Homo sapiens: one gene and its partner. The protein of the gene in region 2 purifies or fractionates together with the protein of the main gene of each other region. This does not show direct contact. Each region holds a gene or a part of one and is shown on either strand. Other genes may lie near its edges.

Region 1 (8,487 bases), on a different chromosome or scaffold from region 2:
ATCTCAAAAAAAAAAAAAAGCCAGGTGGGGTGGTGCCTGCCTGGAATCCCAGCTAATTGGGAGGCTGAGGCAGGAGAATCTCTTGAACCCAGGAGACAGAAGTATGCAGACCTTTTTCAACCAAATGCAGATAAAAAAAATATAGTATTTGGCCAGGTGCAGTGGCTCATGCCTATAATCCCAGCATATTAGGAGACTGAAGCGGGAGGATCGCTTGAGCCAGGAGTTCAAGACCAGCATGGGCAACACAGCAAGACCCAATCTCTATAAAATAAAATAAAATTAGCTGGGCACAGTGGTGTGCACCTGTAATCCCAGGTACTTGGAAACTGAGGTTGGAGGATTGCTTGAGGCTAGGAGGCTTAGGCTGCAGTGAGCCGTGCTTGAATCACTGCCCTCTAGCCTGGCCAACAGAGCAAGACCTTGTCTCTATTGAAAACAAAAAAATTGTGACCAGGTGCAATGGCTCAGGCCTGTAATCCTAGCACTTTGGGAGGCTGAGGTGGGTGGATCACCTGAGGTGGGTGGATCACCTGAGGTCGGGAGTTCGACACCAGCCTGGTCAACATAGTGAAACCCTGTTTCTACTAAAAATAAAAATAAAAACAAAATTGGCTGGGCGCGGTGGCTCACGCCTGTAATCCCTGCACTTTGGGAGGCCAAGGCAGGTGGATCACCTGAGGTCGGTAGTTTGAGACCAGCCTGACCAATGTGGAGAAACCCCATCTCTACTAAAAATACACAAACAAAACAAACAAAAAAAACGGGTATGGTGGCGCATGCCTGTAATTCCAGCTCCTCGGGAGGCTGAGGCAGGAGAATCACTTGAACCCGGGAGGCGGAGGTTGCGCTGAGCCGAGATCGTGCCACTGCACTCCAGCCTGGGCGATAGAGCGAGACTCCCTCTTATAATATAATTGCCAGGTGTGGTGGCGGGCACCTGTAATCCCAGCTACTTGGGAGGCTGAGGCAGGAGAATCGTTTGAATCCAGGAGGAGGTTGCCGTGAGCCGAGATGGTGCCACTGCACTCCAGCCTGGGTGATAAGAGTGAAACCCCATTACAAACAAAATTGTAATGCTCTGTGTACGCCATGGGAAGAGGAGCCTGTGAGTGCAGGAACCATGACATTCTCACATCCACGTTTATCTTCACTGCCTCTACGTGGCGGGGTGCTCAGTACTCCATCCTTCCACTCTCCCATCCCTCGTCCTGGCCCAGAGAGGGGAAGTAGGTTGAGGTGTGGCTAGGGCCCCACTTCCCCCAGGGTCCCCCTGATGCCGACCCTTCCCGCAGAACGTGGTGCAGCGTGTGGTGGCTCTGCCCCTGGTCAGGGCCACGTGCACCGCGGTCTGCGATGTTTACAGTGCAGCCAAGGACAGGCACCCGCTGCTGGGCTCCGCCTGCCGCCTGGCTGAGAACTGCGTGTGCGGCCTGACCACCCGTGCCCTGGACCACGCCCAGCCGCTGCTCGAGCACCTGCAGCCCCAGCGTGAGTGCCCTGGCCCGTGTCCCTGGGAGCTGTGGCTTGCCACCCCCCCACCGCCCCCTGTCCCATCCTCCTTGGTCTATCTGCATGACACTCCTGGGGGTCATCTTCAGCCTAGCCACCTGTCCCACTGCCATGCCACCTGTCCTCAATCTCTTCACTTAAGTCCTTCTTTAATCTGATCACCAGCCAGGCATGGTGGCTCATGCCTATGATCCCAGCACTTTGGGAGGCCGAGGAAGGAGGATCACTTGAGGCCAGGAGTTCAAGACCAGCCAGAGCAACGTAGCGAGACCCTGTATCTCAAAAAAAAAATTTTTTTTTTAAATCTGGCTGGGTGTGGTGGCTCATGCCTGTAATCCCAGCACTTCGTGAGGCTGAGGCGGTTGGATCACAAGGTCAGAAGTTTAAGACCAGCCTGGACAACATAGTGAAACCCTGTCTCTACTAAAAATACAAAACTTGGCCCGGTGTGGTGGCACATAACTGTAATCCTAGCTACTCAGGAGGCTCATGCAGGAGAATTGCTTGAACCCGGGAGGCAGAAGTTGCAGTCAGCCAAGACCGCACCATTGCGCTCCAGCCTGGGCAACAGAGTGAGACTCCATTTCAAAAAAAAAAAAGCAAAAACAAACAAAAAAAACTGATCCCCTGATAGGTGCGGTGGCTCATGCCTGTAATCCCAGTATTTTAGGAGTCCGAGGCAGGCAGATCACTCACTTGAGGTCAGGAGTTCGAGAACAGCCTGGCCAACATGGTGAAACCCCAACTCTACTAAAAATACAAAAAATTATCCAGGCGTGGTGGAGGGCGCCTGTAATCCCAGCTGCATGGGAGGCTGAGGCAGGAGAATCGCTTGAACCTGGGAGGCAGGGGATGCAGCAAGCCGAGATCGCACCACTGCACTCCAGCCTGGGTGACAGAGCTAGACTCTGTCTCAAAATAAATAAATAAATCTGATCCCCTGGCCCTCTGCCCTTACCTGTTTACTGGTGGGGCCCCTCCTCTCTGTCCCTATCCATCTGTCTCCCTGTGTCCCCTCCTTTGTTGGCCTGATGTGCCTTGGGTCCATTTGTCTCTCCAGGCCCCCTCCCCTCTGCACCTGCCTCTGCCTGTCCTAAGCCCCGCAGCCTCCGCTCTGTAGTTCTCACATCTCTGTGGACCCCTGAGCCGATGACAGGCGGGGGACTACAGGATCCTTGGCCTCTAGTCTGACCCAGGAAGAGGGTCACCTGAGGGTCCTAGCCCAGCACCTCCTCACCTCCCTCTCAGCCAGCTTCTGTGACCTTGAGTCTGTCCGCTGGGCCATCTGAGCTGGGCACGGCTGAAAAGTCGCCTTGGTGCTGGGAGAACAGGGTGGGTGGCAGGGCCCAGGCAGGATGGCAGAGGAGGCAGTGCCCAACCCAGCGGCCTACCCACACCCTCAGGGCCCCCAGTCTCACCTAGGGAGGCAGCCAGGTCCCCCTGTGGTCTAGGCCTTCTCCCCATCTCCCTCGTAGACTCTCTCTCCAGGCGCCACAGGTGTCTGCCCCAGCGTCTTTGGTGTAAGCGGCTTCTTGGTGTAAGGTCTCAGAAAGCCTGTCCATCTCCTGGTGTGGGTCTCGTCTCCATCATTCCGTTTTGTTTCTCCCTGTCTTATCCTGGTCTCCTTCCTTCTCTGTCTCTGCTTCTCTCTCTAGCATTCCCTCCTTCTACAACTCTCACTGCGTCCCTATCTCCCTCTGCGTCTCCCCGAGTCTCACTCCCCGCCTCTCTCCCTTCAGTGGCCACTATGAACAGCCTCGCCTGCAGGGGCCTGGACAAGCTGGAAGAGAAGCTTCCCTTTCTCCAGCAACCTTCGGAGACGGTACCCCGGACGACTAGACATGGGGACCTCCAGTGGGGGCAGGCCAGATTAGAGGCGGGAGGGAGGGAGGGATGGTGACAACCAGGCTTTTAGTTAACTCAAGAAAAAACAGCCAGGTTAAAATAACTGCAACGTGTGTGTGTGTGTGTGTGTGTGTGTGTGTGTGTGTGTGTATACATATATGTATATACGTATAGTGTATATATGTATATATACGTATAAGTATATATGTATATATACGTATAAGTATATATGTATATGTGTATATATACATGTATATATGTATATGTGTGTATATGTGTATATATGTATATGTATGTGTGTATACATATGTATTGCTAGTAAGGGCAGTTAACTCCCTCAACACCCTCTGTGAGGGAAGGGTTTTATCACCCATTTTATAGGGGAAACTGAGGCACGGAGCCAGGTAGAAGTCCAGGGATCTTTGAGTCCCAGCCCCAGGGAACTAGGGTGGCAGAAATGGAGCTGGAGTCCCACGGTGCCTGGAGTGGGGGGGCCCTTCCTTCCAGGTGGTGACCTCAGCCAAGGACGTGGTGGCCAGCAGTGTCACGGGTGTGGTGGACCTGGCCCGGAGGGGCCGGCGCTGGAGCGTGGAGCTGAAGCGCTCCGTGAGCCATGCTGTGGATGTTGTACTGGAAAAATCAGAGGAGCTGGTGGATCACTTCCTGCCCATGACGGAGGAAGAGCTCGGTGAGGACGACACCCTCAACCCTAACCCCTGAGTCCTGCCCCGTCCCCATCCCCTGTGGTACAGATCAGAGAGGTCTGAGACTCACCCAAGGTCACACAGCAGATCAGCAGGAAACATACAACTCAAAACCAGGCCTGTCCTCCCTCCCGGTCACTTCCACGGCCCCTCAACCTGCATCCCGCCAGGAGTCAGAACACCCAGACCCTAAGGGCATATAGGGCTTTTAGACTTGAGGTCCCAAACTGGTGGCCCCCAAATGCCTGTGCAGCGTGTTTTAAATATTTTCATTCTTTGCATGCATTTAACAACCAGATTTTGCATTACATGTCCCGATTCTTGGCTTGTTTTGAAAAACCAGACACACTGCCAGGCACAGTGGCTCACGCCTGTAATCTCAGCACTTTGGGAGGCCAAGGTGGGCAGATCATGAGGTCAGGAGTTCGAGCCCAGCCTGGCCAACATAGTGAAATCCCGTCTCTACTAAAAATACAAAAAATTAGCCAGGCGTGGTGGCGTGTGCCTGTATTCCCAGATACTCGGGAGGCTGAGGCAGGAGAATCACTTGAACCTGGGAGGTGGAGGTTGCAATGAGCTGAGATCGCGCTATTGCACTCCAGCCCAGGCCACAGTGCGAGACTCCGTTTCAAAAAAAAAAAAAGAAAAACTAGACACAGCCAGAATATTGTCTGCTCCTTCAGATGGTTTGCTCAGCTCCACTAGTCCCCAGTGGTTTATGTCATATCTACTTTGATGGTTTTTGGTACCTGCCTGGCCCTGGAGACCATGTGAATGTCCAACTCTGGCCTTACAGTACTGGAAGAATGTATGGGCTTACCCCCACCTCAGCAGAAAAGCAGGGAGGCGGCCGGGCACGGTGGCTCAGGCCTGTAATCCCAGCACTTTGGGGGGCCGAGGCGGGCCGATCACGAGGTCAGGAGATCGAGACCATCCTGGCTCACACGGTGAAACCCCGTCTCTACTAAAAATACAAAAAATTAGCCGGGCGTGGTGGCGGGCGCCTGTAGTCCCAGCTACTCAGGAGGCTGAGGCAGGAGAATGGCGTGAACCCGGGGGGTGGAGCTTGCAGTGAGCAGAGATCGCACCACTGCACTTGAGCCTGGGTGACAGAGCGAGACTCTATCTCAAAAAAAAAAAAAGGCAGTGAGGCATTGATCAGGCACTTCTTGTGTGCCAGGCACTCCTGAATTTTTTTTTCTTTTTTTTTGAGACAGAATCTCTCACTTTGTTGCCCAGGCTGGAGTGCAGTGTTGCGATCTCAGCTCACTACAGCCTCTGCCTCCCGTGTTCAAGCGATTCTCCGGCCTCAGCCTCCCAAGTAGCTGGGATTACAGGCACCCACCACTACACCCGGCTAATTTTTGTGTATTTAGTAGAGATGGGGTTTTGCATGTTGGCCAAACTCCTGACCTCAGGTGAGCCACCTGCCTTGACTTCCCAAAGTGCTGGGATTACAAGCGTGAGTCCACCACGCCCAACCATTGTTGTTTTTTTTTTTTTTTTTTTTTTTTTTTTGAAGTGGAGTCTCACTCTGTCGCCCAGGCTAGAGTGCAGTGATATGATCTTGGCTCACTGCAGCCTCCGCCTCCTGGGTTCAAGTGATTCTCCTGCCTCATCCTCCTAGACAAATGGAACTAGAGGTGCACACCACCACATCTGGCTGATTTAAAAATTTTTTTTTAGGCCGGGCGCGGTGGCTTACGCCTGTAATCCCAGCACTTTGGGAGGCCGAGGAGGGCAGATCACAAGGTCAGGAGATCGAGACCATCCTGTGAATGGTGAAACCCCGTCTCTACTAAAAATACAAAAAATTGGCCGGGCGTGGTGGCGGGTGCCTGTAGTCCCAGCTACTCAGGAGGCTGAGGTGGGAGAATGGCGTGAACCTGGGAGGTGAAGCTTGCAGTGAGCCGAGATTGCGCCACTGCACTCCAGCCTGGGCAACAGAGCGAGACTCCATCTCAAAAAAAAAAATTTTTTTTCTTAGAGATGGGGTCTTGTTCTGTCACCCAGGCTGGTCTCCAACTCCTGGGCTCAAGTGATCCCCCTGCCTTGGCCTCCCAAAGTGCTGGGATTACAGGCGTGAGCCGCTGTGCCTGGACTATGATATATTCTTTTTATTTTTTTCCACCATATCTTGTGTGGATTTTCTCTTTTTTTATTATTTTTCATTCATTTTTTTAATTTTAATTTTTTTTTGAGATGGAGTCTTGCTCTGTTGCCCAGGCTAGAGGGCAGTGGTGTGATCGTAGCTAACCATAGCCTTCAATTCCTGAGCTCAATTGATCCTCCTGCCTCAGCTTCTCAAGCAGCTGGGACTATAGGCACACGCCACTGTGCCCAGCCCTGGCTAATTTCTGTATTTCTTTTTTAGAGACAGGGTTTTTTGCTGTATTGCCTAAGCTAGTCTCAAAGTAATCCTCCCTGGGCTCAAGCAATCCTCCCATCTCGGCCTCCCAAAGTGCTGGGATTACAAGTGCATGCTGCTGCACCCAACCTATATTTTTAAAAGGCTGCTTAAAAGAATGGTTAAGCAGGCCAGGCATGATGGCTCACACCTGTAAACACAGCACGTTAGGAGGCCAGGCAGGCGGATCAATTGAGCTCAGGAGTTCTAGACCAGCCTGGCCAACATGGTGAAACCCCGTCTCTACTAAAAATACAAAACTTAATCGGGTGTGGTGGTGCACGCCTGTGGTCCCAGCTACTCAAGAGGCTGAGGCAGGAGAATCGCTTGATCCTGGGAGGCAGAGGTTGCAGTGAGCTGGGATAGTGCCACTGCACTCCAGCCTAGGGGACAGAGCGAGACTCCATCTCAAAGAAAAAAAAAATGGTTAAGCAGTTTGGGACCAACGTGCCTGGGTTCCAATCTGGGTCTGCTTCTTGGATCCTGCAGGATCTCACCTCTCCTTTGCCTCAGTTTTCCTCCTGTGTAAAACAGGGCCCACCATAGTGCCTACATCTTAGGGTTTGGGGAAGACCAAATGGGTTGATGTCAGTCAAGGGGAACTGTGAATGTGGGAACCTGTGGCTTCTGTACCCAGAGGTGGGTGAGCAGATGTGGAGGGGGTGGGTGGCTGTGCTGACCCCATGCTGTCCCCGTGCTGTCCCCGTATCCTGTCCCCGTGCTGTCCCCGTATCCTGTCCCCGTGCTGTCCCCGTATCCTGTCCCCGTGCTGTCCCCGTATCCTGTCCCCGTGCTGTCCCCGTATCCTGTCCTCCAGCGGCACTGGCGGCTGAGGCTGAAGGCCCTGAAGTGGGTTCGGTGGAGGATCAGAGGAGACAGCAGGGCTACTTTGTGCGCCTCGGCTCCCTGTCAGCACGGATCCGCCACCTGGCCTACGAGCACTCTGTGGGGAAACTGAGGCAGAGCAAACACCGTGCCCAGGACACCCTGGCCCAGCTGCAGGAGACGCTGGAGCTGGTGAGAGCCCGCTGCCCGCCCCTGCTCCGGGATGCAGGCCAATCAGTATGGATTGAGCACCAGCTGAATACCGGATCCCGTGCTAGCCTAAAGCAGGAGGCGGAGCTGGGTGCAGCTGTCTCCAGCTGCATGTGTTCAGGGCTGGGGGACCCGGGCCTGGAGGAGCCCAGGGATGTCATGGCTCTGCCTGGAGAGTCAGGGAGGGGTTTTGTGGAAGAGGGGAAGGAGAAGCTGGAATTTATAGCAAGTTAGGGTAGGTCAGAAGAGAGCCTTCCTCCTCATCAGAATCCTCCCATCCTCAGCTCTTCCCTCCCCGCAGCAGCCACCAGAGGGCACCTGTGAGCCCCTGAGTCAGGTCTGTCCCTTCTTTACCCACAGCCCTCTATGGCTCCCACCTCCCTTGGGGTCCAAGCCCAAGTCTTCCCCACGGCCCTGCACAACCTGCCTCGGTCTCCTAAATGCTTACTGAGGCCAGATCAGTGGTCCTGGACCCCACCCCGACCCCCAGCTCCCCCAGCTCCCCCAGCTCTGAAGACCACCATTTCTGTCCTTGCAGATAGACCACATGCAGTGTGGGGTGACCCCCACCGCCCCGGCCTGCCCTGGGAAGGTGCACGAGCTGTGGGGGGAATGGGGCCAGCGCCCTCCGGAGAGCCGCCGCCGGAGCCAGGTGAGACCGCAGGAGTGCCAGGTGAGGTGGTGTCTGCCACCAGGCCGCGGAGGAAGAGGGGGAGCGACGGACTGCGGGTCAGCCCAGTACTGCCGGGGACCCAACTCAAGCTATCTCAAACCAAGTGCTGAGCTCAGCTAGTTGAGGTGTCTGGGGGGGGAAACTGAGGCAGGTTTAAGTCCCATTGTGTGTTTTATTTATGTATTTATTTTGAGATGGAGTTTTATTATTTTATTATTTATTTATTTTTGAGATGGAGGGAGGTGGGGGGAAAGGGGGGTGTTGGCCCAAGCAAGCAGTAGTCCCTGGCTTCCCGCCCCTTCTCGCTTTCC
Region 2 (5,307 bases):
GTCATCAACAGGGTTTCCACGGGTCTTCAACATCATGCACTTGGAATCTGAAGGCTGACACTGGTCCCCAAAGGCTTGGCTCTAGACCAGCCTCACACAGCACAGAACCGAATGATCCTCCTGTCAAACCCAAGGCATCTGCTCTGGCATCTTGGTCAAAGTCCAAAGGCTGTAATTGCATTATGCCTACTTGTGAGCTCTCCTAGAGTTCCCAATTAGGTAATATTTATTTTCTACCCAGAAAAGGTTATGCCCAACCTTGCTCTGCACACTGAAACAATAAGGGTTCCAACCCAAGTGATAAAGGAGCATCTCAGTGTGACATGAAGCCATCATGAGGTAGGGGCAGGAGGCTTCAACTGGCCTTATGCAGAGCCAGCTAGGACAGCCATCAGCTTGGAACAAACTAAGTATCCCTGAGGGGTTAAACTTGTGCTTTTCTGTGGCAGTACAGAAATAATATGCATATATTTCCACTTTAAATGATTTCTAAAGCAGATGTCAGCAGATGAAAAGAGGATTGAACTCCAGCTCCTTCTCTAACAGCTTTCTGTCAAAATATAACCCACGTGAGGATTTCAAAAAACTAAATTCATTCCAATATAAAGTATGCTGTCTTAATATCGCATGGTGTGTGACTTGTTATATTCCCAGCTATGAATAACCCATAAATGAGGAATTTTGTCTTGCTTAAAGAGATACTCTAATGGTCAGGAAGTTTTATTTAATATGCAAAATTACCTTTGTAAATATCACTAAATGGTGAAATAAAACACGTTCGGAATATCTGAAATGATCCTTCTTTGGATAAACGAGAAAAGGCACACGTTTACAATGCCTCAAATTGTGTCTTATTCAAATGAAGACCCACACACATAATGAAGAGAAAATCTCTAATAATTTATTGACCTTCAGTTTCACATTGTGAAAAAAAAAAAAATAACAGTTTTACAAAACCTCAAAATGTAGTCATAGCAAACAAGTACATATGAACATGAACATTTTCCTTCAACTTATACAGAGTTTTGTACGTGAACCACATGGTCAATAGCCAAGAGAGGGACATTATGCAGCTCTAATCACTCTTATTCAAGACAGGTGTCAAGCCCAAAGAAAAGGGGCTACACAATTATACCAGAAGTGGAGGGCTGCCCTTTGTTATGTGTTTCTACAGCAACCAGCCCACAAAATAAGAAGAACCTTCTCTGTCTTATGCCAAGGTTTTTGTGTGTACTGTGCTGTGAATTGTATTTGCTTCAAAGTGTGGGACGTTTCACAGGGTGAGAATGGTCAAGTAGTGAGACCAAATGCCTATATCGATTCAAAGAGTGGGAGTCCAGAAAGTTCCCTACAGGCTGGGGGCCCAACCCTTACCACAGCTCCCTCTGGCTCACACACAGTAATTAATAGAGGATTCAAGAACAGACCCCAACTTTGAAACAGCTGCAGAAAATTCATCCTGCTTTCAGAAGCCATGCAGTGACACATACATCTCTCTTGGCAGATTTGCATCATAAACTACAGAGCTGTAACTGCTACAATATAAACGACACTGACTATGCCCACTGGGGGACAATTAGACATTTGCATTGCTTAGAACACATCTAGGAACCAGGGACTGACTGCTGGAAAGTACTGTGATTCTTTTCTTCCAACAGCTCATTTATTTAGGCCCAACTACAGCCCACTCATTCATGGCATGGACGGACAAACACAATTAGTCTAAAGTACTAAGGTGGAGAGAAATGTTAAGGATTTATCTGTCATTAGACAATGCAAACACAGTCACAATGTAAAAGGTTGTTATCAGTCTTAACCCCTATTTTCTAAAATACAGCAATGTGAGAAACATGGACGAAAGCAGTTCGAGTTGCAAACTTTGGTCTTCCCCTGCACCTCAGGGGAAGCACCTATCTGAGACTAGCACTAATACCTACGACGGCACATGCTTAGTAAACAAGCACTCCAACTAGCAAAGAATGTATTCACAACTGATTTCCAACTCTACCGGAAAACTTCTCAATAGGGGCCACTGCCTACAATTCTTTGGTGTTTTGTGGCCAAATGTGTTACTTGTGCACCAAAGAGTTTTTTAAAAAGAGATTTGCCTACGGGTGAGCACTGAAGTATACATTGTGCCAATGTAATTATTGTCTTGGAGACCTTCTAGAACTTGCTAAATCATATAGCAAGAAGAGAATGAGTTCAGGCCCAGTAAATCTGGTGAGTTAATTTACATCTGTGATACTGCCGTTTTTCCCATTAAATGTGGTTATGGCAAAGCATTCTTAGGGTAATAAATAAATAAATAAACTTTGGACAATGCCTTTACTTGTGCCCTATATACAGAACTATTCCATAGAATTTTCCAGGATTTCAAGATACTACACAAAGAAAAAAACTGTAAAGCAATTTGGTCCTTTCCAAATTTCAGCAGCTGAGACTGAATTAAGTAAATCAGATGGGAGTGGGGAGAAGGGCAGAAAGCAGCCTCCCCTTACCCTATCAGCACAACCAAACCCCATGAAATCCCATTAAAAGTTGGTGAGTCTGAGAAAAGCGATCTCCACGGTTTCTCTACCTCTAGGATGTCATTTAAATTTCCATTTTGTCATCCTTCCCTGTCTTGACATTTTAAAAATCCACCCCTCCCCAACCCACCCTCCAGTTATGCTCCAAATTGTAACTCAAAAATTTTCATGTTTGTGCAGCAAAGCACATCTCAACAGCCACAAAATGTGCAAAACGTACAACCATTCACACACGTCCATACATGTGAAGACAGCTGTAGGCATTGTTTCAGCATGCAGGCATCGAACAATAAATAGCTAAATCTATAACAAACTTCTTAACAGCCAAGGGAAAGTTTAAAGTCACTTATAAATAGAAAAGAACATCTACCAAATGGCTACCAACAAAGTCCCCATTGTTCAGAAACGTTCCTGGGGAGCAGACCCCTTAGAGATTAACGGAGAGTCCAGTGGTCTTCATTCTTCAGCCAGCCCAGCCAGCTTCCCTCTCGGACCCACAGTTGGGCTTTGAATCTCCAGCAGCAGCTGGTGTGGAGGCTTCAAGCTCTGTCCTCAGAGAGAGGTGACAACCATTTCAAATTCTACACATAAATGGTGGGGCCCATGGAAATCAAATGCTGAATATGGTACAGCAAGGGAAAAGGTCCAGCTTTTCTCTCCCTTTGAGGGGCTGATTAACATTGACATTAATCCACAATTACAAGACAAGGACTAGATCACAGGTTTGTTCATTCATATTTAAACCATGTGCTACTTGCACCAAAAATCCCACCCCCCTCCCTCGCCCCTTTCCTTCATGTCCAGTTAGAGCATTTACAAGGTGCAGCAGATTTTATTCGAGTCTTGCAACTTCTTTTCCTTTTTTTCTCTTCATTAGACTTGGCCTCTCCGAAGTAGAAATCTCATATTATCTCATCGAGTGATGGAGTGAGCTGAAATAGAAGGAAAAGGAAAAAAAACAAAACAAAAAAGCATGAAGGATTTGTGTGATGCCATAGTTTTTAAATTTTTCTTATTAGCCACAAAATTTTTTTTTAAATTAAACTTGGTATGGAGCTGGACAATATTGCTTCCAAAGGTCTTACATGTTCAGTAGGAACTGTGCAAAGATATTTAAAGTACTTGCCTTAAATGCACACACGTGTGCACGTACACATCCATGCAGATGGCTGGCCTGACAAAAACAGTGGTGTCTAAAGAAGGACCTTCACTTCTTTCCTAAGCATACACACTTTCAAATCCAAACCTATATGTCTAGATGCTATTAGGAGTTGCCATCTTCTGCTTCCAACATTCATAAAATTTCTTTCTGTGGTTAAACAGAGCGACTGTAAAGTGATCACTAAGGGGTGAAAAGAAGGGAGATTCCTGTGCAAACCCTCCTTGGCCCATGTACCATGAAAGATTCCAAATTAACTTTACCATCTAGGAGGCAGACATACTAATCCTCTTATTTAAATGCATCTCTGTTATCCATTATGGCAGAAATCAGTCTCGCTTCCTTTCACATGACAATGTATCAGGCCTCAACAGCCCAAGTTTGGAGTTTATTCTCAAAGTTCGTCAGTCCACACGTAGGTGCCAGCAGCTACGGCATGCCAGTGCTACAGAATCTACGTACATCAAGTGTGAATATCAATTCAAAGTGCCGTAACCACAAAGCCTGCACATTTCATAGAGCTTGCATTTCCTCACACTGCTTACTCTTCCCATTTATTTATTTCTCATTTCATCTGGGGAAATTGTGCAGAGGGCTTTTGTATCCCTATTGCTGTAAGTCTAAGTACAGACAAAGGGAATTCTGGAGGAGCCACTCATGACCTTGCACTGAATTCTTTGCTTTTGTGTGTTCAGAAGCCTGATTCATTTCATGAGTTGTTTCTTTTGGCTGTTTCCTAACAGTGATTCAAGCTTTCAAGGCATGCCTTAGACTACGGTGTCATTGCCCCACCTCCACCTCCTTGTAACCTATATGTCAACATTAGGCCAAAAGAATGTATCTTATAATAATATAAAATTTCAAGACAATGCATATTCAAACAGGAAAAAAGGAATACACACACCCTCCCCCCAAAAAATTGCATATTCAAACAGGAACGATAATAAAAAAAAAAAGGACACACAACAACAACAACAACAACAAAATCTAGAGAAGAAACAAAGCAAATCAAAGCCTAAGTTAGGTTGAGGCCACACGGCACCATGAAAACAGAGGATAATCAAAGTAATTTCCTTTCTGCCCTTCCCACCCACTGGCAGAGCAGCAGGAGGCAGATAAAACCTCCTAGGTGGATGAGCTTTAAGACCTAGGGAAACTTTCTGTTAAACACTCTATTAATTCCGTTAGCACCTACATTTGGAGGGCAGAGGAATTTGCAGTTTGGGACTGAGACCCACCTACCCAGCACTTTAAGGCACTCCAACCCCCTCTTAAATGTTTTAGCACTATCTTGTGTAGTAAACTTTAGAAATTTTAACCAACATTCTCCCTGTCGGAAATTCAAAGAGTGGCTTTGATCAGGCGCTTACGCTGCCCTTTAAAAGCAGCAAACTTGGCCCTGTCAAATTTAGTTTTCATGTGCTTGACTCTCTCACTGGTAGCGCCAAGGGTGAAGAGGATGTTATTTCACATATAACTTAACACTTTACTTGCTCTGTTTCCCAGCGACCGGAAGGGTATGATTCAGTTCAAACACCCAGGGTAGGGTGAAGTCAAGTGTTTGCCAACATGTTCACTCTGGGCTGAAAAAGGAGGAACCAAAAGTGAAGTCTAAAG

The links. The genes of interacting proteins can lie anywhere in the genome.
Region 1: the proteins of ENC1 (region 2) and PLIN5 purify together in Homo sapiens (affinity purification with mass spectrometry; 2 studies listed by BioGRID and IntAct, with this or other methods). This does not show direct contact.

What each region holds. Positions count from the first base shown.
Region 1 is NC_000019.10:4,524,631-4,533,117, reverse strand, and holds part of PLIN5 (perilipin-5), read left to right. Parts: intron 1-1,295; coding exon 1,296-1,491; intron 1,492-3,251; coding exon 3,252-3,334; intron 3,335-3,864; coding exon 3,865-4,045; intron 4,046-7,285; coding exon 7,286-7,485; intron 7,486-8,041; coding exon 8,042-8,155; intron 8,156-8,487. UniProt on the Homo sapiens protein: Lipid droplet-associated protein that maintains the balance between lipogenesis and lipolysis and also regulates fatty acid oxidation in oxidative tissues.
Region 2 is NC_000005.10:74,626,530-74,631,836, forward strand, and holds the end of ENC1 (ectoderm-neural cortex protein 1), read right to left. Parts: intron 3,464-5,307; 3' UTR 880-3,463; downstream 1-879. UniProt on the Homo sapiens protein: Actin-binding protein involved in the regulation of neuronal process formation and in differentiation of neural crest cells.